Regions from separate parts of the Homo sapiens genome. Here regions 2, 3, 4, 5 and 6 are each linked to region 1. Evidence: fine-mapped expression QTL. A gene starts in region 1. Each other region holds a variant in brackets. All regions are shown on one strand. Distances are between the middles of the regions.

Evidence for each region. PIP is the estimated chance that this variant, and not a neighbour inherited with it, causes the effect. A credible set is the group of variants that fine-mapping cannot tell apart.
Region 2: its variant is the best candidate, but not a certain one, in a credible set for the expression of AQP3 in lung (TOPMed, PIP 0.63).
Region 3: its variant is the best candidate, but not a certain one, in a credible set for the expression of AQP3 in anterior cingulate cortex (GTEx, PIP 0.62).
Region 4: its variant is the best candidate, but not a certain one, in a credible set for the expression of AQP3 in prefrontal cortex (ROSMAP, PIP 0.87).
Region 5: its variant is the best candidate, but not a certain one, in a credible set for the expression of AQP3 in whole blood (INTERVAL, PIP 0.66).
Region 6: its variant is the best candidate, but not a certain one, in a credible set for the expression of AQP3 in whole blood (TOPMed, PIP 0.59).

Annotation. Positions count from the first base shown.
Region 1 is chr9:33,445,100-33,449,186 of GRCh38, reverse strand. It overlaps AQP3 (aquaporin 3 (Gill blood group)), which reads left to right and starts at 1,594. Exons shown (of 6, transcript NM_004925.5): 1 at 1,594-1,764. The coding sequence starts at 1,657. RefSeq lists a silencer at 1,419-1,608.
Region 2 is chr9:33,418,074-33,422,160 of GRCh38, reverse strand. No RefSeq gene overlaps it. Among named protein-coding and RNA genes, the nearest start is that of AQP7, 18 kb to the right of the region's middle. The variant T/C (reference allele first, on the strand shown) is at 2,151.
Region 3 is chr9:33,388,378-33,392,464 of GRCh38, reverse strand. The region is part of intron 3 of AQP7 (aquaporin 7); the gene reads left to right. Among named protein-coding and RNA genes, the nearest start is that of AQP7, 12 kb to the left of the region's middle. RefSeq lists enhancers at 780-1,074, 601-1,387, 1,388-2,175. The variant T/A (reference allele first, on the strand shown) is at 2,214.
Region 4 is chr9:33,509,321-33,513,407 of GRCh38, reverse strand. It overlaps the pseudogene SUGT1P1 and the pseudogene VN1R47P. Among named protein-coding and RNA genes, the nearest start is that of ANKRD18B, 13 kb to the left of the region's middle. The variant TA/A (reference allele first, on the strand shown) is at 1,679.
Region 5 is chr9:33,425,021-33,429,107 of GRCh38, reverse strand. No RefSeq gene overlaps it. Among named protein-coding and RNA genes, the nearest start is that of AQP3, 21 kb to the left of the region's middle. The variant T/C (reference allele first, on the strand shown) is at 2,531.
Region 6 is chr9:33,410,009-33,414,095 of GRCh38, reverse strand. It overlaps LOC105376020 (a long non-coding RNA gene), which reads right to left. Exons shown (of 3, transcript NR_188543.1): 3 at 3,546-3,856. Among named protein-coding and RNA genes, the nearest start is that of AQP7, 9.5 kb to the right of the region's middle. The variant G/A (reference allele first, on the strand shown) is at 1,844.

The sequences.
Region 1 (4,087 bases):
AAAAGCAGCATAGAGGGCAAGGTTGCACTTCGGGAGGCCGAGGTGGGAGGATCGTTTAAAGCCAGGAGTTTGAGACTAACCTGGGCAACATAGCAAGACCTCATTTTTACAACAGATTTTTAAAAATTAGCTGAGTGTCATGGTGGCACATAGTCCCTATAGTCCCATCCATTCTGGAGGCTGAGGTGGGAGGATCACTTGGGCCCAGGAGTTCGAGGCTACAGTGAGCTGTGATTGCACCACAGCCTGGGTGATGGAGCAAGACCCTACTCTTTAAAAAGAGAGAGAGGGCAAGGTTGTCCCATGATCCCCCTCAGATAGGGCTGACTCCCCCATAATTAAGTTTGCTTAAAGAGGCAGACTTGCTGGGCTCAGTGGCTCACGCCTGTAATCCCAGCACTTTGGGAGGCTGAGGCGGGTGGATAACTTGTGGTCAGGAGTTCGAAATCAGCCTGGTCAACATGGTGAATCCCCATCTCCACTAAAAAAACAAAAATTAGCTGGGCATGGTGGTGTGCACCTGTAATCCCAGCTAATCGGGAGGCTGAAGCAGGAGAATCACTTGAACCTGGGAGGTGGAGGTTGCAGGGAGCCGAGATCACGCCATTGCACTCCACCTAGGCGACAGAGAGAGACTCCGTCTAAAAAAAAAAAAGAGACAGACTCTTCCTTGGCTGGGGGTAAGTCAGATGGGAGAGGAGAGGGTTAAAAACAGCTGGGACTCAGCCTGCTGGCAAACATGTGGCATGTGGCATGTCGGGGCAACTGCAGCTCAGCCTCTGGAGCCATGTGAGCAATGCACGCAGGTACACGTGTGACAAGCTAGGTCACCTAGCCATGTTCAACAGGCATGTGCACAGCCACGAGGAATGCCCAGCCGTACAATTAGGCACACAGGACATCCGCCATGTGTAGACACAGCTGTGGACATAGCTGGCCAGGACATGCGACACACGACGTGCTCATAGCACAGGGAGAAGGGCCCATGAAGTCTGGTTGGAACTCAGCACGTGTGTCTGTGTGCCCACCTGAGTCTGGACTGCTGCCCCTCTGACACTAGCTGTCCCCTTGAAGGGTCGGTGCCTTATCTGTCCTGACAGAAGAGACAGTGTTGCTTCTCACTTGGGGCTCGCAGCCTCCTCCTCCTGCCTCGAACTGAGGATCTGTTGGGTCCAGTCATCCTGGAGAGATGCGGCCAGTTTCTTTCTGACAGGTCTCCTCCTGCCCGCAAGGAAGTGGGGTGATCACAGGGCGCAGGTGGTCTCTATGACAGCTGCATCCTCTCCAGCCATGGCCCTGAACCCTGCCTATAATCCCACCATTGGCTCTCAGATCTGCCTAAGCCTCTCAGCCCCCTTGACGTCCCCTCCCTTAAGCGCCCTCCGAAGGCCACCCGTCCCTCAAAGCTCCTCACACTCCATGCCCGCAGCTCCCTCCACCCGGCGTCCGCACCAGCCTCCCAGCCGAGGTGGGGCGGGGGCGAGGGGGCGCGCACTCCTCGGCGCTCCGGGACTGCAGGGCGGGGCTGCAGGGCGGGCGGGGCCCGTGTCTCCAGCGCTCCTATAAAGGGAGCCACCAGCGCTGGAGGCCGCTGCTCGCTGCGCCACCGCCTCCCGCCACCCCTGCCCGCCCGACAGCGCCGCCGCCTGCCCCGCCATGGGTCGACAGAAGGAGCTGGTGTCCCGCTGCGGGGAGATGCTCCACATCCGCTACCGGCTGCTCCGACAGGCGCTGGCCGAGTGCCTGGGGACCCTCATCCTGGTGGTGAGTGGAGGGAGCCGGGGAAGCCCTTCTCTCTCCAGCCCTTGCACTCCCCAAACTCTCACTTCCCCGAAGGGGCTGTGTTTTCCAAGGTAGCCTGGACCCACCTCCCCAGCTGTGACCCCCACGCTTAACCGCGGAGGATCAAGCTGACTTCCAAAGTCCTCTTCCCCACGGTTCTAACCCCCTCTCTGACAGCTCCGACTCTTGCCAGAATGACAGCTGTTACTCCCCAGTGATAGTGCCGATCGTTTACCCTCCCACAAGTGACTCAGCCAACAGGCTGGGGGCAGCGGTCACGCTTGCAGTCTGGGACAGCCAGCCACTTCCCCTGCCTCCCACACCCCTCCAGATTCCCAGAATCCCAGCCCCCAGATGTAGGGGAGGGGGCGGAGGCAAATGAGCCATTATTAGGTTATTTGGGTCCTGGGTGTCTGGCCTCTAATGAATAATTAAGCCTCAAAAAGTCCAAAGGTTGAAGTGAGTGAGGACAGTTTGCACGAGTGGGGGCAGAGGGTGCAGGCCACATGGGCTGCGAACAGCGAAGTGGGAAGGGAGGCAGATTCTGACGGTAGAAGGGTGGGAGGAAGCTAGGCCCAGGCACAGAGGACGCGTGTCTAAAGTTGCTCACCTGGTGCTCAGCGACTCCCAGGCCCTGTCTGTTATCCAGACAGATGCTGTCAGCGTCTGTGCAGAAGACGACAAGCATTCTGGTTACTCCCTGGCCTCTTGGTTACTCTGTGGGTTCTCTGAGTGAGCATTTCCCTGCCTGAGTTACTCCTCAGTCCTAGTTACTCCTTGGTCACACCAGTTTCACCCTGGTTTTGTTCTGAGTGACTCTGTTTGCACTTCTTAGGTCTGGCAGACCCACCAGTTATGTTCTATTTCCTGTCCCAGTTACTCTGATTTTTCAGCCGCTCATGTGGTTACACCTGTTTTCCTCTGTGTTCAGTTGCTACATTGCAGTGAGTGGGTTACTCCGTTCCTGCCCCAGCCCTGGGTAGTACAGACCAGCTGGCCCACTGTGGACTAGGAAGCCTAACTAAGGGCAAGTAGGGATCCCCAAATGGTTGAGGATCAGGATCTATGGGCAGAGGAGGGCTGAAACCCACTTCTGGCTTCCAAGAATAGGAAGTGGGGAAGCCACAGGGGGCATTTTATCCACAGCCTCCCATAAGATTAGTCGTCCTATCAGCCAGCCCTAGCCCCTCTCTCCTGTGCCAAGAAGGCAATAGGAGGTGGCCTTTATCACTCTCCTGCCTCGGAGCCCTCACTCCTATCGGAGTCCTGAGTCCAGCCACCTGTTTTAGAGCAGCCAGGCTAGGGGAGGATGATGTCTTCTATTTTCCTAGAGGGGCCTCCTCATTCCCTCCCAAGTCTCAGTTCACTCTCTCACAAAGGAGCCGTTAGTCCTCCCACTGAGCCCCAGGATCATCAGGCTTATCCCAGACCACAAAAGAAGAGTGTTAAATTTTAGGGGAAGGGTTGCAGACTCAGATGGATGTGAGGTATTGGATATCAGTGAGAAGCAGAACTTCAAGGACTGCATGAACTGGAGGGGCAGGCCTGGGGATCCCTTTGTAGTGGGTGAGTGCCTGCCTGCCTACCTGCGTGTTGGGAGCCTAGGCCTGCAGTGGCAGAATCAGGGTTGGCTTTGGGGTGAGGAAAGCCCCTTTCTCTGAGATACCTGGTGTGAGGGCAGGGGGCGGTGCTGGCCGAGAACTCAGGGCAGGGGTTGGGGGAGGAAGAGGAAGATTAGCCCCAAGGTGGTGGAACTGGCTCTGACAGCTCCTCCCTCCAAGGCGTCCTGGGATGGAGCCAGGTCTGAGCCTTTGGCAGGCAAGGAGCTGCTGCCAGGGCCTCCCAAGCAGGGCAGGGCGCCTCAGACCCTCACGTGCCTGTCTCCCACCACCCCTCCTCACACATACACCTGCAATCTCTGATCTTTGCTCTCACCTGCCTGCACACCTTTGCCCCATGTCATTGCCGCTGGCTTCTCCGTTATCTCTTGGTCTTTCTGGGATGATAATCAAAATGCTTAACTATCCAGTACAACAGGCACTGACCCGTCAGAATAAACAAGGTCTGTAGCACAGGTCCTGGAAACTGCCTGCTCTGTGGGCATAAAACCTTTAGTTATGGGCAGGTGGGAGAGGAGACCAGGGCAAGGCATTGGAGCAGCTTTGAGGGACACTCAGGGGGCTCAGGGCAACAATGCTTTACAGCTGCTGCAGAAGTATTTTCAGGCTTGAACAAGGGGAACAGACATAGTACGTTCTTTTTCTTTTTTAAATAGAGACAAAGTCTCACTATGTTGCCCAGGCTG
Region 2 (4,087 bases), 27 kb after region 1:
TTGAGGCAGGTGGATCACCTGAGGTCAGGAGTTTGAGGCCAGCCTGACCAACATGGTGAAACCCCATCTCTACTAAATACAAAAAATTGGCCGGGAGTGGTGGCACGCGGCTGTGATCCCAGTTACTTGGGAGGCTGAGGCAGAATTGCTTGAATCTGGGAGGTGGAGTTTGCAGTGAGCAGAGATTGCACCATTGCACTCCAGCCTGGGCAACAAGAGGGAAACTCCATCTCAAAAAAAAATGTTTTATGTGAAAGTACCATTATTATTATTATTATTTTAGACAGATCTTGCTCTGTCACCCAGGCTGGAGTGCAGTGGCACAATCTCGGCTAATGCAACCTCTCCTTCCTGGGCTCAAGCAATTCTCCTGCCTCAGCCTCCCAAGTCGCTGGGATCACAGGTGTGTGCCACCACACCTGGCTAATTTTTGTATTTTTAGTAAAGACAGGGTTTCACCATGTTGACCAGGCTGGTCTCAAACTCCTGACCTCAAGTGATCTGCCTGCCTTGGCCTCCCAAAGTGCTGGGGTGACAGGCATGAGCCACCTAACCGGGCCATGTCAGTATTTTATAATCCTATATTACTTTTGATTTATGAGATTGTAAATTCTTTTTTTTCTTTTTTTTATATACAGAGTCTTGCTTTGTCACTCAGGCTGGAGTGCAGTGGCTGGATCATGGCTCATTGCAGCCTCCTGCCTCAGCCTTGAAAGTAGGTAGGATTACATGCCCATGCTACCATGTCCAGACAATTTTTTATTTTTTTGTACATAGGGGTTGTGCTGTGTTGCCCAGGCCGGTCTTGAACTCATGGCTTCAAGCGATCCCCCTACCTTGGTCTCCCACAGTGCTGGGATTAAAGGCATAAGCCAACACCTAGATTGAAAGTTTTATGAGGCCAGGATTCTTAGACAGTCTCTCGCTCTATTGCCCAAGCTGGAGAGTGCAGTGGCCCAATCTTGGCTCGCTGCAACCTCCGCCTCCCGGGTTCATGCAATTCTCATGCCTCAACCTCCTGAGTAGCTGGGATTGCAGGTGTGCGCCACCACACCTGGTTAATTTTTGTATTTTTCAGTAGAGACAGGGTTTCACCATGTTGGCCAGCCTGGTCTCGAACTCCTGGCCTCAAGCAATCCATCTGCCTTGGCCTCCCACAGTGCTGGAATTACAGGTGTGAGCCACTGTGCCTGGCTCAGGATTCTTTTCTATTTCCAAGCACCAGACTTTGTAGATGTTGAATGAAAGAGGGATAGGGAAAGTGCAGCGGAGTAATTAAGCAGACTTTTTTGCTGCACCTCTCATCTCTTTTACTTTAATTCTCCAGAGTAACCTCTCCTTACACAGAAAGAATGTTTTGGGGGCCGCCTTGATCTACAAAACCAAAAACCAAAAACAAAAAACAAAAAACAAAACAAAACAAAAAACCTCACACATGTGATGACATATTTAGGAAGTGCTGTAGACTTGAGAAAATCTTATCAGAAATATGAAAATAAGACCCGATTATGCACTAAGCCTGCTCCTCCTCCTTTGTTTCCATCAGAGAGGGGCACCACCCCACCAGAAACCCTGGGGCTACCCCACACACCTGCACCCCAACTCGATCATTCACTGGCACCATCCTCCAGTCCAGCCCCTTTTTCCAATCCTGATGCGACTCCCTTTGTTCCAGTTACCACCAACTCCTGCCGTTATTACTGCAACTGCTTCCTAACCAGTTTCTCTGCTCCACTCCTACTCTTCCCACCAAATTCGTGCCTTCTGAGCTCCAGCAATGCTTTAGAGCTTTCTAACATACTAATCTTTCCCTGCCACTCCCGTTTACAGACTTTCAGTGACCCCCATCAGTCCCTCGAGCAAGGACAAGACCATTCATGGTCCAGCCCGGGCTTAGCTCTCTAGTGTCAGGGGCTCCCATCCTGCTCCAGCCACACATTTCCCAGGCTCCCTCGGGGCCTTTGCATGAGTTGACTTATTCTTTCTGTCCCTCACCCTTTTGCCTGGCTAACTCTTTCTCATTTCTGCTGTTAAAGAGGATGTCCCTTCCTCCAGGAAGGCTTCCCTGATATTCCCAAGCTCCAAGCTTGGTTCAGCGCTGTCCTCTCAACTCCCACAGACCCGTGTGCTTATCACCTCTATACTTGCAT[T/C]GTAGCTTCTTGTTTACTCACCAGCTTCTCTACATGCCTTGTAAGTCCTCCAGGTCTGGGACTGGGACTTGTTCTCCAGTGCGCATCTACCACCTAGCACTTGGGAGAGCTCCCACGGCTGAATACATGAATAATGAATAAATGAAGTACTCTTGTAGGAACTGATTAACATTTTTTCTTCTTCTTCTTTTTTTTTTTTTTGAGGCAGAGTTTTGCTCTTGTCGCCCAAGCTGGAGTGCAATGGTCCAATCTCGGCTCACTGCAACCTCTGCCTCCTGAGTTCAGGCGATTGTCTCGCCTCAGCCTCCCAAGTAGCTGGGATTACAGGTGCCCGCCACCACGCCCGGCTAATTTTTCTATTTTTAGTACAGATGAGGTTTCACCATGTTGGCCAGACCTCAGGTGATCCATGCACCTCAGCCTTCCAAAGTCCTGAGCCACTGCGCCTGGCACATTCACACTTCTTAAGATGCTCGGTAGACATTCAGAAAAAAATGTCCTAAAAGGACGCATACATTCTCCAAAGAAGGCTTAATTGTCTTAGGATCTAAGAAATCATGTAGATTTGATTGGCAGGAATTTGGGGGTGAATATATAGATAGGAACTGTGGTGTACTAAGGGGAGGGGGCAGTTGGTTCACCCCATCTGTGTATTTTACCACGGACATTGTTTAACATTGCTGCTGATAGGGACAACAAGAAGCAGACTGACTTTTTTTTTTTTTTTTTGAGACGGAGTCTCGCTCTGTCGCACAGGCTGGAGTGCAGTGGTGCGATCTCGGCTCACTGCAAGCTCCGCCTCCCGGGTTCACGCCATTCTCCTGCCTCAGCCTCCTGAGTAGCTGGGACTACAGGCGCCCGCCACCATGCCCGGCTAATTTTTTTTGTATTTTTAGTAGAGACGGGGTTTCACCGTCTGGTGGTCCTCCCGTCTCAGCCTCCCGAAGTGCTGGGATTACAGGCGTGAGCCACTGCGCCCGGCTGCAGACTGACTTTTAGTCAGTTTTATTGTTTTTAAGTTCATTGCATCGCTTCTTAGCCTTTTGGCTAAGATCAAGTGTTTTTAAGTTCATTGCCAATGATGCGCCCCCTATTGCCGGCCCCTGGGGAGGACAGCACCCACCCCCACGCCCCCATTTAAGTATGCCACCTGTAAGGAACACTGATTACTGGGTGAGCTGGTCTGTTTTCCTTCCCTCAGCACTGAGCTGGGAAGTATCCAACCTCCCAAAACCCTGCAGGGCAAGATTGTCCCTCCTGGACTGGGACCCACTCCCTGTAACTCCTCTAGCAACCCCTACTCTCTCAGGGGAGCCCTCTGAGTCTCCTCCCTGGAGGCTGTCTGTGGGAAGAAGTCTCCCTGTGTAGGGATGGGAGGCCTTCCCTTGCGTAGGATCTAGCCTAGGATCTAGTCTTGTCCCAGCCACTAATCCACCCTGAAGCCTTGGTCTGGCCCTCAGGGCTTTACTCCACCTACCTATAAAGCTTGAGGAGTTTGGTGAACTGGGTCCTGAGGTCCTTCAGGGACCTTCCCGAGTTGCGGAAGGGGTGTCAGCCATGGGGATGGGTGGAAGGTGCCCCCTCAAGCCCCCTCTTCCTGCTGTACTCTCTGACCTGAGTGAGACATTCTACCACAGGGCACTGGCTGGGTTGGGCGTGTCGGCCCGCAGGATGGAAGGCAAGTCTGGACAGGTGGATAGTGGAGCCTCGGCCCCAGGGTGGGGTGTGTGCCCTGGAGAACCAGGAGACAGGCAGGAGCAGATCCTAGGCAAAGATCAGAGGTGGGTGAGGTGGCTCCAGCAGGCCAGCTGCCCTTACCTGGCGACTGTCTCCAGGAATTGCAGAGACAGATACTGGGCTAGGCTAGGTCCTGGCTCTGCGGTAGGGATGGGGAGTGGCTAGAGGGTGGAGAACAGTCCCTTGGTGAGGTCACTTGT
Region 3 (4,087 bases), 57 kb after region 1:
TCCCAAATCCTCGCAATAGCCCTGTGAAGTAGGTACTATTATTATCCCAGTTTCACAGATGGGAAAACTGAGGCTCCTTGAGACTAAGCCTTTTGCCCAAGGTCACACTGTAAGTCAAGATTAAATCCAGTGCAGTCTAATATCACAGTCTTTTTTTTTTTTTTTGAGATACAGTCTTGCTTTGTCACAGTGGCGCGATCTCAGCTCACTGCAACCTCCATCTCCCGGGTTCAAGCGATTCTTGCGCCTCAGCCTCTGGAGTAGCTGGAATTACAGGTGCATGCCACCATGCCCAGCCAATTTTTGTATTTTTAGGAAAGACGAGGTTTCACCATGTTGTCAAGGCTGGTCTTGAACTCCTGACTTCAAGTGATCCTCCCACCTCGGCCTCCCAAAGTGCTGGGATTACAGGCATGAGTCACCGTGCCCGGCCCAGTATCACAGTCTTGACCGTTAACCTCTATGCTCTGTCCCTTAGCTTAAATATTGCCAGCTTTTGAAGACTCTGGCTTGTTAATGCTCCCCCAGCCAGGGTAAGGTCCTCACTTTCAGGTAGTTCAAGATGCCTCTCTCGGCCTCAGTTTCCCCATTTATAGAGTGGGAGAAAAATTCTTGCCGTGCAGATTTGCTGTGAGGATTGAAGACAGTAGCACTTGTAAAAGAACTTTGTGAGGTGTAAGCCTATATCGGACATTGTGTTGTTGTTATTTTTAGTTGCCAGGCTGTGCCAAGAAGTGAGGGCTTTTTGTTTTTGTTTTTATATATATATACAGGAATCTCAGTGAGTCACCAGGGTGAAGGTTTTGCCAAAAAAGCTAGTGTGACCTTGGCCCCATTTATTGCAGCCAGGATGAGGGAAGTGGACTGATCCATGTTGCAGCTTCCAGGGGTGTTGCCCTTGGAGCTGGCCTCCTGGCTGTGGGGGAGAGTTGGATGGGCTGGGCCACATTCACTGATCAGGGAGAGGAGGGGCTGGAGCCATCCGGGCCCTGGAAAACCAGCCATACACGTGAGACACGGGGCAAGGGTTGTAGATCACATGCTACGGGGGCCAAGAGAGCGGCAACTCAGGGCGGTGGGGACTTTGGCTGGCTGCAGAGTGCCAATCTGTGCAAGGCTGTAGAGCTGCCGCCACTCCAGCTGACTGTTGCCATGGAGAGTGGAATGCAGGCCAGTGTTGCCTGAGCTGCTCATTTTTCAAGAGAGAAGGAAACTTCTGTTCTTCAAAACCAAGTTATCTAAACAAAACCTGTGCGCTGGATGAATTACGTGCATGAGTTGCCAGTTGGCAACCCTGACACAGGGAATCATGTGGGGTTCATTCACTCACCCAGTATTTTATTTTATTTATTTATTTTGAGACCGAGTCTCACCCTGTTGCCCAGGCTGGAGTGCAGTGGTGTGATCTCAGTTCACTACTCTGCCTCCCAGGTTCAAGTGATTCTCCTGCCTCAGCCTCCTGAGTAGCTGGGATTACAGGCATGTGCCACCACGCCTGGCTAATTTTTTGTATCTTTAGTAGAGACGGGGTTTCACCATGTCGGCCAGGCAGGTCTCGAACTCCTGACCTCATGATCGGCCTGCCTCGGCCTCCCAAAGTGCTGGGATTACAGGCGTGAGCCACCGCGCCCAGCCTATGCTCATCCAGTATTTTTAGCACATGGTATTGGAATGGGGGAAAGGCCATGGGGGCCCCTCTGTTTTCAGACCCTCCATGCCTGCTCCAGTCCCTCTACCTCTTGACCCTGCCAGCCTGTCAACCTGTCCTGGCCTCACTCCCCCCTGCACCCCCATCTGTTCCTGTCCTCTCCTGCTGTATCTTATCCTGGATCTGAAGCCAGCCTAGCTCTGGGCTCCCCTGCTTCTGTCCTGGGGCTTCTGAGGGACCCAGTGGGCCCTGCTCAGCTGCCTCTCCCCCACCATATCTGGGCTATTTCACATTTTCTCAGACTTCCCCAAAGCTGCTCTGTACTCTGACTTTTTTTTTTTTTTAAATCAGCAAATGGCTTGATCTGCTGCTTGACAGGTAAAATAATCAACACTTCCTGTGTTCAGCTCACCCTCTTGTCCCTCTCACCACCAGACCCATTAACCACCCATGTATCCACATATCACCCCTTGGCTGGGGCGGGGTCCTCTCCTTCCTGGAGGACCCCTCCACTTCTGCACCAATCCAGCTGTCCAGCCTATTCAGGTACTTTACTCTGTCCTTT[T/A]TCTCTGTCCTTTATCTTCAGCCTGTCCCTCTCTCAGCCTATAAATATACTGAAGTTTCTCCACTGAAAACAACACAAAATGAAACATCCCTCCCTTCACCCTGTCAGCCCCTTCGCGGGATCATGTTCTCTCTCCCCCGCTCCTCAGGCGAGTTCTCGAAGAGGAGTCTACACTGGTGTCTTTCAACTCTTTTTCTTTCTTTTCTTTTTTTTTTTTTTTTTTTGAGACGGAGTCTTGCTCTGTCACCCAGGCTGGAGTGTAGTGGCGTGATCTCGGCTCACTGCAAGCTCCGCGTCTTGGGTTCAAGCAATTCTCCTGTCTCAGCCTCCTGAGTAGCTGGGATTACAGGCAAGCGCCACCACACCTGGCTAATTTTTGTATTATTAGTAGAGACGGGGTTTTGTCATGCTGGTCTTGAACTCCTGACCTAAAGTGATCCATCCACCTCGGCCTCCCAAAGTGCTGGGATTACAGGCATGAGCCACCGCATCCGGCCTGGTCTGCCTTCTTACCCTGTACCCTCTCCTGGGGCCTTCTCCTCTGACGGCTTTGACTTCGGCCCTCATGTCTACAATTCTCCAGGTTTTCTCTTTTATCAACTCTAGAACAGAGTTCTCCAGGGGAAATACAATACAAGCCATCTGTATAATTTAAATTTTTCTAGTATCCACATTAAAAAGGTAAAAAGCAACAGGTGAAATTAATTTTAATAATTAACCCATATATCCAAAATCCTATTTCAAGATGCAGTCAATGTAAAATTATTAGGATATTCTGGCCAGGCATGGTGGCTCACACCTGTAATCCCAGCACTCTGGGAGGCTGAGGTGAGAGGACTGCTTAAGGCCAGGAGCTCGAGACCAGCCCGGGCAACATAGTGAAACCTCATCTCTACACAAAATAAATTGAAAAAATTAGCTGGGACAGGGCGCAGTGGCTCATGCCTGTAATCCCAGGACTTTGGGAGGCCAAGGCAGGCGGATCATCTGAGGTCAGGTGTTTGAGACCAGTCTGGCCAACATCGTGAAACCCTGTCTCTACTAAAAATACAAAAAAATAGTTGGGCATGGTGGCGTGCACCTATTATCTCAACTACTCGGGAGGCTAAGGCAGGAGAATCACTTGAACCCGGGAGTTGGAGGTTGCAGTGAGTAGAGATCGTGCCATTGCACTCCAGCTTGGGCGACAGAGCAAGACTCTGTCTCAAAAAAAAAAAAAAAAAAAAAATTGGCTGGGTGCCGAGGCACATGCCCATAGTCCCAACTACTTGGGAGGCTGAGGTGGGAGGATCACTTGGGCCCAGGAGATGGAGGCTGCAATGAGCCCTGATCATGGCACTGCACTCCAGCCTGGGTGATAGAGCAAAACCCTGTCTCAAACATCAAACAAACAAACAAAACAGTGGCACAAGAAAGCAAGGCATGCATGGAGCAGCACAGTTGTTTGGTTTGAGGCCATCTGGCACAGGTAACTGCCTGGATTTAATCCTGGCTCACCAGGTACAGGCTGTGTGACCTTGGACAAGCCATTCAAGTTCTCTAAGCTTCAGATTACCCTCTGTCAAGTGGGGGAGAATAATAGTGCTTAAGTCATAAGATTGGTGTTAAGGGTTAAAGGAGGTGATCAGTATAACTCGCTGGCATGTAGGCAGTGCTCAATAAATGGTTATTATTATTTAGTAGTAATACTATTGCTGAATACAAAGAGTATTGGGGCAGATATGAAACAGGCAGAAAGGATGAAATTATGCAGGGTCTTCAATGGTGGCCTACTGAGTTTGGACTTTATCCTAGAAGTGGAGGAGAGCCAGTGAGTGAGTCTGGGGAAGACGCGATGGGGTTTTTGTTAGGAAGATCACTCTGGCTGCAAGGAG
Region 4 (4,087 bases), 64 kb before region 1:
TTCCATTATGCCCTCCTTCTTGGTTAAGATGGAAAAGAACCTCCTCTTTTAATTCCATTTGTGCATTTAAGAAATTCCATTTGGTTGTATATAATTATTCTTCTAAGATTATGCTAAGATCAGCACATCTATATTTTACTTGGATCTCTGATCACTATAGATGATATTTGCCTATAAAACAAGCATTGGTGTTTTCAATCACAATCAAAAAGAAAAAATTCAAAACGATTCTTTTAAAAACTCACAAGAGATACAAAAATATTTTTTAAATACATGGATTGTCTTAAAAATTATTTCTCTCTGTTGCTATGACAGCATAGTGGTCAAGTCCATTGTCAGCTTCTGACACTGCCTCTTACAAGGAGGTGACTTTGGAAATGTCATTCAGCCTTCCTGTGCCCGAAATCACCTCACCTGTCAAATGGGAACAATAAAGCACTTCAAAGAATTGTTGTAAAAGTTCTATGTAAAACACTGTTACAGCACTCTTATGCTGGGAATATATATCTATACACACATATATTTTTATAGCGAAACTCTCAGGAAGAGGAAAATGAAGTTTAATAGGAAATTAATGGCTTGAAAACAATGGTACATGGAAAAGAGTGGCTTTCAGTTGCCATAGTACAACAGGCCTCTTGTTTTCACGCCAGATCCTCTCACTCTGAATAGGATGATCAGTCATTGAAAAAAGAAAAATGGCCTCCAGGGATGTGGCAATAGGAATGATCTTCTTATCTCAGACCACAGTAGGATTCCTGGGCAATTGCTTTGTTCTTCACCATTATAGTTATTTATTTCACCAGATGCACATTAAGGTCCACAGATCTGATTCTGCAGCACCTGACTGTAGCCAACTCCTTGGTCATTCTCTCTAAAAAATGCTCCTATCCTTGTCAATGCTTGGTATTGGAAATCCTTTTAATTTAAGTCATTCTGGTGGTAGTTTTATTATCTCATTATAATTTCAATGTCCACGATACAGCTATTTTTTTTTTTTTTTTGAGACAGAGTCTGACTCTGTTGCCCAGGCTGGAGTGCAGTGGTGCCATCTCGCTCACTGCAACCTCTGCCTCCCAGGTTCAAGTGTTTCCTGTGCCTTGGCCTCCTTAGTAGCTGGGATTATAGGTGTGCACCACCAAGCCCAGGTAATTTTTGTATTTTTAGTAGAGATGGGGTTTTGTCATGTTGCCCAGGCTGGTCTCCAACTCCTGGCCTCAAGGGATCCACCCGCCTCGACCTCCCAAAGTGTTGAGATTACAGGCATGAGCCACTGTGCTCAGCCATGACATAGCTATTAATATAGAACTTTTCATGTGGGCCTATAGGTCAATCTAGGAATTTGCCCTTTCAGAGGCTATTCATATTTATATGCATATTGGTGCATGGCAGGGGTTGGTGTATACACCTTGGTGTATGGCTGAGCCATAAATGGAGCATACCTGAGAATAACCCTATTCTAAGTGTGTTTGGAGTCCCAGGCTAAGGAATCCAGGAGTAGCCAACACTGAGATTCACTACTTACCTATGAAGGACAGCCATACCCCTGCCCCATCCCTTGGAACACAGCCTGTACAGGTGATCAAGGCCCTTTATTTTGGGTTAAATGGAGACTGCTAGAAGGAGGGTTCTAAGTGAAAATGCGATATGCTATATGGACTACATGCTTTTTTTTTTT[TA/A]TACAAACGGTAGCGTTTCTCCAGGCCAGCCCACCACCACTGGACCACCCCTGTATGTAACTCCTGAATAAACGTTATGTTTCCTTCACTGGTTCTGCCTCTCCTATAGTGTCATCCCAATCGGAATCAATGGGGATCCGGAAGGACAACCGGCCATTTAGATAACATTTGAAAATTAACCAATGTAATTGGTCACATTGTAACATTATTATTAAAATATTATTTTAAAATTATTATTATATAACAGTAACATATTATTATTAAAAATACATATGAACATTTCAATAAAGGTAGAAAAAGCACTTGATATTGAATGCTTTCCTCTTGATTTTACAACCAAGACAAGGAAGTCCATTATCACTATTTCTATTCAATAGTGGACATACTAGCCAGCAACAAAACTAAAAGGTATAAAGATTACAGGAAAGTTAAACCATCTCTATTCACAGACTGCAAGATTGTAATCACATAAATTCCAAAAGACTCTACAGACTCTACAGTCCCACGGCAGCCCCTTCCTCCGCGCCGCGGCGGCGCCTCCGGCCCACGTCACGCTCGCGCCATTGTTTCCCAGCCGCTGCTCGCTGGGACCCCGCCAGCCCTCGAGCGCGGCCATTCGCCGCGTTCTGCCCTCTCCCCCCTTTCCTCACGCTGGTGGTGGCCCTTTCCTCAGTCCTGCTGATGTCCTCCAGCTGATTCCAGGCTGTTCCCGGCCACCCCTGAGGCCGTCCTTTCGCTTCTTGTAAAAGCCTCCCCGCCTCCTGAGCTCCCTCGGTCGCCTCCCGAGAAGCCAACGGGCCTCTCTGGTGGAGCGTTAGGTTGACAGCGTTTTAGCAGGACCGCGAGAAACCGGGGAGATCCTCTTACGAGGAAAAACTCCAAGATTACATCCCTGTTATCTTTCCTCCAAGTAGTTTCTGATCATAAGTTATTTGTTTAAAAATGATGTTTTAATTAGAATTTATTTGATGGCTTTTAAAAAACTTTTACTGACACTCAACATGTTTGTTTTTGTAGGAGCTGACTAAGGCTTTGGAACAGAAACCAGATGATGCACATATATTATCGTCAAAGAGCTTATTGTCACATTCTTCTTGGGAATTACTGTGGTAATTTTTCTTATAAAGTATATTGCCCCTTTTTAATAAGTTACTTATACATTTTACCCATGACCAATTAATCAAATAAAATAAAGGTTGTCTTTGAGGATTTTTGAGTTGGTCTTTCATACAAGGTAAAGTAGCTCAAGTGTGACAGACATGTTGAGCAACACCTATTTAAATTTTATGGATGTCTCTTTTTTCGTTCAGTGGGTGGATAATGTATATAGGTTTCATTCGTAGTTATTGAGTAGGCTGATAAAGAATAGTATCACATTTACTGTTTAACAGAGTATTAAAATGACATGCTCTTCTTTGTATTTTTTTATAAAAAAGAATGTGGCATGGTGGCTCACGCCTGTAATCCCAGCACTTTGGGAGGCCAAAGCGGGAGGATCACATGAGCCCAAGAGTTCGAGTCTAGCCTGGACAACATAGCAAGACCCTATCTATATTAAAAAAATAATGTATTCCTGTACTGTGTAACTTTAAAAATTATTCTGATGAAGAATCTGGATAGGGAAAAACTGAATATCTTTTTTTTTTTAGATGGAGTTTTGCTCTTATTGCCTAGGCTGGAGTGCAGTGGCACAATCTCATCTCACTGCAGCCTCTGCCTCCTAGGTTCAAGTGATTCTCCTGCTTCAGCCTCCCAGGTAGCTGGGACTACAGGTGTATGCCACTATGCCTGGCTAATTTTGTATTTTTAGCAGAGAGGGGGTTTCACCATGTTGGCCAGGCTGGTCTCAAACTCCTGACCACAGGTGATCCACCCACCTCAGCCTCTCAGAGTGCTGGGATTACAGGCGGGAGCCACTGCACCCCGCCAAATTACATAAGTGATGCTAATGAGAAAAGGAGATGAATTTTGTCACACAGCTTTATTCACTGACCGAAGAGCTTTAAGAAGAAAGCTAAATGTTAAGCCAAAAGGAAGGTACAAGAGTAATATTTATTTGAATTCTGTGTTGGATTAGCTTTTCCTAATTTAAAACCATTTGGCGTTTCTATTAACTCGAAAACTTGGAAATCTAAAACTGATCAGTATTCTGTGTGTGTTTGCTAGAATCTGTAAATAACTGACAAAAAACATCTTTTTCTTTCTTTCTTTTTTTTTTTTTGAGACGGAGTCTCACTCTGTTGCCCAGGCTGGAGTACAGTGGCGCAGTCTTGGCTCACTGCAACCTCTGCCTCCCAGGTTCAAGCGATTCTCCTGCCTCAGCCTCCTGAGTAGCTAGGACTACAGGCGCGTGCCACTGCATCCGGCTAATTTTTAATTTTTTTTTTCATAGAGACGGGGTTTCACTG
Region 5 (4,087 bases), 20 kb after region 1:
GGGTTTCACCATGTTGGCCAAGATGGTCTCGATTTCTTTTCCTCGTGATCTGCCTGCCTCGGCCTCCCAAAGTGCTGGGATTACAGGTATGAGCCACCGTGCCCAGCCCTGGAAGTAACAAACTTCTTTGTTAGTAACAAACTGTGTGGAAAGTTTGGGGAGACAGAGGGAATTTACTTTGGTGGTTTTTTGTTTTGTTTTGTTTTGTTTTTGTTTGTTTTTTTTTTTGAGACGGAGTTTTGCTCTGTTGCCCAGGCTGGAATGTAGGGGCATGATCTTGGCTCACTGCAACCTCCACCTCCCGAGTTCAAGAGATTCTCCTGCCTCAGCCTCCCAAGTATCTGGGATTACAGGCGCGTGCCACTACGCCCGGCTAATTTTTGTATTTTTAGTAGAGACAGGGTTTCGCCATATTGCCCATGCTGGTCTCAAACTCCCAACCTCAAATGATCTGCCCACCTTGGCCTACCAAAGTGCTCGGAATACAGGCGTGAACCTCCGTGCCTGGTGGGGAATTTACCTTGTACAACACGTTCAAATTGAATATTAAACATCTCTATTCTTCGAAATCATTTTGGCTCCTCCACCAGAGGCTATTTCTCCCTGGCCCCTTCACCCCACTTAGTACCCCTGCCTCTGGCCACACTGCTGGTTTTCTCTACCCTCCCATCCCCCCCTCCTTACTTTCTCTCTCCTGATTGCTCACTATACTCTAAATTACTTTTTATACAGTGTTTAGCTTAGCCGAAGGGTCACTGGCACAGTCCCCAAGATTTCCTTTAATGAGACCCACTCTCTTCAGGGTTGTGTTTTGTTTTGGTTTGGTTTGTTTTGTTTTTTGAGATGGAGTTTTACTCTTGTTGCCCAGGCTGGAGTGCAATGGCATGATCTCGGCTCACTGCAACCTCTGCCTCCTGGGTTCAAGCGATTCTCCTGCCTCAGCCTCCCGAGTAGCTGGGATTACAGGCATGCGCTACCACGCCCGGCTAATTTTGTATTTTTAGTAGAGATGGGGTTTCTTCACGTTGGTCAGGCTGGTCTCGAACTCCCGACCTAGGGTGATCCGCCCTCCTCGGCCTCCCAAAGTGCTGGGATTACAGGCGTGAGCCACCGCGCCTGGTCTCTTCATGGTTTAAAAAGCAGTTTGCACCAGTCTGGGCAACATAGTGAGACCCTGTCTCTACAGAAAATAAAAAATAATAGCCGGGTGTCGTGGCACACACCTGTAGCCTCAGCTATTCAGGAGGCTGAGGCAGGAGGATCGCTTGAGTCCAGGAGGTCAAGGCTGCAGTGAGCCATGATCACACCCCTGTACTCCAGCCTGGGTGACAGAGTGAGATCCTGTCTCAAAAAAAAAAAAAAAAAGTTTGCCCCACTCTGTTACAAGTAAGTAGCACTGTCCCAATGGTGGCTGCCATTCGCTGCCATTGTTCTTCCAGACTGAGCTTCATGGAGACAGGGACACAGGTCTGGTTGTGCAAGTCAGCCCCTAGTACCTTGCAAGGAGTTTAATAAATATTTGTGGGATGAATGGATGGGATTATTCAGAACCCTCTTGAAGTCCACCTTCCTTTCTCTCTCCCCACAGGGGATAGTTACGAGAAAGAATTAGAGGCCCAGAAACTTCTAATGGGGTCAGCCGTGGAAGAAGCCTGGTGGAATAGACAAAGCTCTGGCTAGAACTTTTGTAGTCTGTAAGGAGAAGGAGGCTAAGTGTTTGTGGCCAACCCCAGATTGGAGTGGATGTGGACCCAGGAGGGAGGAGGCAGAGATGACATTAAGGTTCCATGCCTGGGTCCTTCGATGGGCCTGGGCACAGCCGACACAGGCACCTAGCCTGCCCCCACGGCTGGGGCTCCACCTAGAGATCTTATCCACGGCATGGCTGATACATGGTACTGAGTCATGAGACCTGCGGCCTAGGAAACAGTTCCGCTGTTGAAACAGGCCCAGGGGAGGGGGGCTAGATGGGTGTCTCTGACTTGCTACTGGCACAGACATCATTGCCACCCACACTTCCTGTCACCCCTGGGTCACCTTGATGGTCATCACTCCTCTCTGACCCTGTCACTCATTTGTCACCCTCACCATCATCCCTGCATCACAACCACTGCCCCTTTCTTACCCACGCTGTCACTTGACCCAGTTCCCATCATCGTGTTACCTTCTTGAGCATTGCCACCATCCCTGCCCCTGCCCCATGCCCAAGCCTGTGGCTATCTGGACCAACCCTTTGTCAACCACCTCCAACCCAACCTGTCACTTGCTAGTTCATTCCCATCTCTCCTGTCACCTTGACTGTCCCCACCCGACCCTGTCACCTTGTCACCTTTGCTGCCACAGCCCCAACATAGTCTCCCGCTCTTACCACCTATCTCAGTCCCCATCATCTCTAAGTCTTCTGGACTGTCACCACCCTCCTGCTGCCCCTTTGTTAGTCAACCACTACTGCCCTACCTCTGCCTCCTCCCGATCATCATCCACATCCTCTGATCTCAAGCCCCTCACTGAGGTCCCCTTGGTGTCTTTC[T/C]CTTTGACATGCTCAACATGTGCCCACATTTGAGACTTTGCCCCTGCCTTTCCAGCCTCTGGCCTCCTCTGGGCTTCCTGACCTGGATTTGCTACACTTAGCTTTGCCGTCTGCCCTGGCAAGCGATGCTTCATTTTGACCTCTAGGTGGGCTAGGCCTTGGGCCTAGGCACTTATTCCCAGGGTATTAAATAAATACCAGGTAGAAGCCTTTTCCAGGAAGCCCTGAATCTTCTCTGCATGCACTCATGACAACTGGCAGTTGCCTCTGCCCAGCCTGGCCCTAAAATCTCCATTTATTAACATGACAATTATTTTCCTTTTTAGAATTCCCCAATATATCCCCTTTTTTTTGAGACAGAGCCTCACTCTGTCCCCCAGGCTGCAGTGCAATGGCGAGATCTTGGCTCACTGCAACCTCTGCCTCCCGGGTTCAAGTGATTCTCCTGCCTCAGCCTCCCAAGTAGCTGGGATTACAGGTGTGCACCACCATGCCCAGCTAATTTTTTTGTATTTTTAGTAGAGACGGGGTTTCACCATGTTGGCCAGGCTGGTGTCGAACTCCTGACCTCAGGTGATCTGCCCACCTCGGCCTCCCAAAGTGCTGGGATTACAGGTGTGAGCCACCGTACCCCAACTGTGTTTTTGTTTTTTTTTTTTGAGACGGAGCGTCGCTCTGTCACCTAGGCTGGAGTGCAATGGCCCAATCTCAGCTCACTGCAACCTCCACCTCTCAGGTTCAAGTGATTCTCCTGCCTCAGCCTCCCGAGTAGCTGGGATTACAGGCATGCACCACCATGCCCGGCTAATTTTGTATTTTTAGTAGAGACGGGGTATCACCATGTTGGCCAGGCTCGTCTCAAACTCCTGACCTCAGGTGATCTGCCCTCCTTGGCTTCCAAAAGTGCTGGGATTCCAGGCGTGAACCACCATGCCCGACCCCAGTGTAACCTTATAATTCATCAGTGTCCCCTTATCCTGATGTGATAGCCCCCCAGTACCTTGACACTTAACACTTATAACTAACCACCATTCGTGTAATCATGTGTTTAAGGCTGTCTTGCCCACCAGGCAGGACGCTGTGGGAGGGCAGTAACTATGTTTTGGTCACTGCCAAGTCCCCATAGTGCCTGACTTCCAGTAGGAAATCCATAAATGTCTGTTGAGTTAATAAATACCATTTACCAAGTCCTTAATATGTGCTGGGCACTATGCTAAGCACTTGATTAACTTGTTTGTTTCCTGTTTTATGTTTGCGGTCCCTTTCTATTTTATGTACTTTTGAGCATTTCAAAGCTTTTTGGCACGGACACTTCTGACAAAGTTCAAACAGAGAAGTGCATTTTCAGTTACTCATCAGAGTGAGGCCACTTAGAGAAAGGCAGTTAGTTACTCACGGAACAGGGAAAACACTTTCTTGTAATTAGGGAAAAGGGAATCTGGGCATGACATGTCAACTCTGTATTTCATCTTCTGTTCTCCAAGGGAGTTTCAAGAAACTGAGGGAAGGCCGGGCGCCGTGGCTCACACCTGTAATCCCAGCACTTCAGGAGGCCGA
Region 6 (4,087 bases), 35 kb after region 1:
GCAGCTAGACATGACGTGTCTCCTGATGGGATGAAATAGGAAGCATGCAGCACCTCCACAGAGGACCCGCTGCTCCAGCCCACATGCAAGACTGAACCTAAATAAAATCACACCAGACCGGGCGCGGTGGCTCGTGCCTGTAGTCCCAGCACTTTGGATGGCCGAGGTGGGTGGGTTGCTTGAGCCCAGGAGTTCGAGACCAGCCTGGGTACATGGCGAGACCCCATCTCTACAAAAAATACAAAAATTAGCGTGGCATGGTGGCATGCGCCTGTCGTCCCAGCTGAGAGAATCACTTGAACCCGGGAAGTCAAGGCTGCAGTGAGCAACATTCACGCCACTGCATTGCAGCCTGGGCAACAGAGCGAGACTGTCTCAAAAAAATAAACAAAGCCAGGCAGGGTGTGTTGGCTCACGCCTGTAATCCCAGCACTTTGGGAGGCCAAGACGGGCGGATCATGAGGTCAGGAGATCGAGACCATCCTGGCTAACACGGTGAAACCCTGTCTCTACTAAAAATACAAAAAAATTAGCCAGGCATGGCGGTGGGTGCCTGTAGTCCCAGCTACTCAGGAGGCTGAGGCAGGAGAGTGGCGTGAACCCGGGAGGCAGAGCTTGCAGTGAGCTGAGATCACACCACTGCACTCCAGCCTGGGTGACAGAGTGAGACGCTGTCTCAAAATAAATAAATAAATAAAATTAATAAAAAATAAATAAACCATACACCATTAGAGCTCTTTTTTTTTTTTTTTTTTTTTTTTGAGACAGAGTCTTGATCTGCCACCCAGGCTGGAGTGCAGTGGCACAATCTTGGCTCACTGCAACTTCTGCCTCCCAGGTTCAAGCAATTCTTGTGACTCAGCCTCCTGAGTAGCTGGGACTACTCAGGCACCCACCACCCCACCTGGCTAATTTTTTTGTATTTTTAGTAGAGACGGGGTTTCACCGTGTTGGCCAGGTTGGTCTCGAACTCCTGACCTCAGGTGATCCTCTCGCCTCAGCTTCCCAAAGTGCTGGGATTACAGGAGTGAGCCACCACACCTGGCCACTTTTTTTTGTTTTTGAGGCAGAGTCTTGTTCTGTTGCCCAGGCTGGAGTGCAGTGGTGCAATCTTCGCTCACTGCAATCTCTGCCACCTGGGTTCAAGTGATTCTCCTGCCTCAGCTTCCCCAGTGGCTAGGACTACAGGCGTGCACCACCACGCCCAGTTAATTTTTGTATTTTTAATAGAGACGGAGTTTCATCATGTTAGCCAGGCTGGTCTCAAACTCCTGACCTCAGACGATCCTCCTGCCTTGGTTTCCTAAAGTGCTGGGATTACAGGTGTGAGCCACTGCGCCCAGCCCAGAGCTGACTTCTCATATTTTTTTTTTATTTCTTTCTCTTTTTTTTTTTCTTTTTTTTTTGAGACAGGGACTTGCTCAATGGCACAGACATGGCTCACTGCAGCCTTGACTTCCCAGGTTCAAGTGATCCTGCTGCCTCAGGCTCCTGAGTAGCTGGGACTACAGGTGCATGCCACCATGCCTGGCTAATTTTTTTCCTTTGAGATGGAGTCTCGCTCTGTCGCCCAGGCTGGAGTGCAGTGGTGTGATCTTGGCTCACTGCAAGCTCCGCCTCCCGGGTTCACGCCATTCTCCTGCCTCAGCCTCCTGAGTAGCTGGGACTACAGGCGCCCACCACCACGCCCAGCTAATTTTTTGTATTTTTAGTGGAGATGGGGTTTCACCATGTTAGCCAGGATGGTCTCGATCTCCTGACCTCATGATCCGCCTGCCCCGGCCTCCCAAAGTGCTGGGATTACAGGTGTGAGCCACTGCGCCTGGCAATTTTCGTGTTTTCT[G/A]TAGAGATTGGAATTCTCCATGTTGCCCAGGCTGGCATTGAACTCCTGGGCTCTAATGATCCACTTGCCTTGGCCTCCCACAGTGCTGGAATTAGGGGTGTGGGCCACTGTGCCCAGCCACTTACTCAAAGAAATACAGGGGATGACGGAAAAGCTGAATGACACTACAAAGAAAAAACACAGACAAATCTAGAATGTGGGACTCTTACAGGACTACATTTATTCAGCAAGTCAATGACATGAAAAAATAATGATGGAGAAAGGGGAATTCCTCTTGTTTAAGAGAACATTTAACCCAACGTAATGTGTGACCTTGTTTGGATCCTGATGCAAACAATCCAACAAATCAATGCAAAAAGACACTTTGAAACAATTCCAAGTATTTGATCATTCTATGGAATTGTATATTTTGTCAGGTATGGCACTGATTATTTAAGAAAATGTTCCTATATTTTAGAGGGAACACTGAAGAATGTAGGAATGAAATGACAGAGTAGCTGGAATTTAACATATTTCAGAAAAATAAAAATAAAATAAAATAGGCAGTTTGAGACCAGCCTGGCCAACATGGTGAAACCCCATCTCTACTAAAAATACAAAAATTAGCCGGGCCTGGTGGTGGGTGCCTGTAATTCCAGCTACTTGGGAGGCTGAGGCACAAGAATCTCTTGAACCTGGGAGGTGGAGGATGCAGTGAGCTGAGATCGCTCCATTGCACTCCAGCCTGGGCAACAGAGCGAGACTCCGTCTCAAAAAGGGGAAAAAAATGGCTGTAAAATGGAGAATGAGTGAGGGTGATGCAGGAGAGGTGAGCCCCAAAGTGGGGCTTGGCCTGCGAGGGTTCTCGGCTTTGCCTCTCAAGGGCAATGCAGAGAGAAGTAGAAGAAAACAGCTTTATTGAAGCGGCAGTGTTACAGCTCCATGACTGCCCCTGCACAGCAGGGCTATACAGAGGCGGAGAGCAGCAGCCCAGGGCAGTTTTGCAGTTATATTTATACCCACTTTTAATTGTATGCAGATTAAGAGGCAATTTATGCAGAAATTCCTAGGGAAGGGGTGGTAACTTTTGGGCCATTGGGTCATTGCCATGGAAAGGGGTGATAACTCCCAGGTGTTGAGATGGCAATGATAAATTAACATGGCACATTGGGGCGCATGTCTGATTAGAAAGCTGCTTCCAGCCCTGTTTTAGCTAGTCCTCAATCTGGTCCAGTGTCCAAGCCCCACCTCTGGAGTCAAGTCCCGCCTCCTACTTCAAGGGGGATGCAGACCGGGAGACCCGTGGAGAGGCTCTTGGAGATTAGATTTGGGGCTGATTGAGGGGGCCACGAGAGAGGGAGTAGTTGAGTGACTCCTGGAGGGAAAGCTTCAGAGATGTGGTGGGGAGGAGCATTCCTTGGGCTAGGCCCTTGGGAAGGGGGCAGACTGTGGGGAGGTGAGGTTGGGTTGGGGCAGGTGAAGGTAATGTGCTTGTTACACATACGAGATAACAAGAGAGGAGGCTGGACCACTTGTTCTTGAGCTCCGGGCTGGAGATGGAGGCTGGGGAGGTGGCAGCATTTGCGTGGGGGAAGAGGATGTGAGAGCCATGCAGGGCTGCCTTCTCCATGACGCACAGGAGGCACAGGACCCATGAGAATGTTCAATCTAAGGGCCCACAAAATGTTTTAGTTTGCATCCAAATAAGAAAAAGAAGAACTTGTAGGCTGAAGAAAATGTTTTAATATTGATACATCAGGGCCGGCGTGGTGGCTCACACCTATAATTCCACTTATTTGGGAGGCCGAGGCGGGTGGATTGCTTGAGCTCAGGAGTTTGAGACTAGCCTGGGCAACATGGAGAAACTCCGCCTTTACAAAAAATACAAAAATTAGCCAGGAGTGGTGGCAGGCACCTGTAATCCCAGCTACTTGGGAGGCCAAGGCAGGAGAATCGCTTAAGCCCAGGAGGCAGAGGTTGCAGTGAGCTGAGATCGCACCATTGTACTCCAGTCTGGGTGACGGGAGTGAAACCCTGTCTCGGAAAAAAAAAAAAAATTAATATATTTGTCTTTATACCAATAGTTGTAAAATAGAATTAATTATTACTATTATTATTATTTGCTGGAAGAAGGGGCCCAAAAGGGCAAAAATGCCAAGGGCACATATATCTAAAAGAATGGAAAGCATTGGGAGCTAAATGATAAGAACTTACGAACACAAAGAAGGAAAGTGCAGACACGGGGGTCTTCTTGAGGGCGGGAGG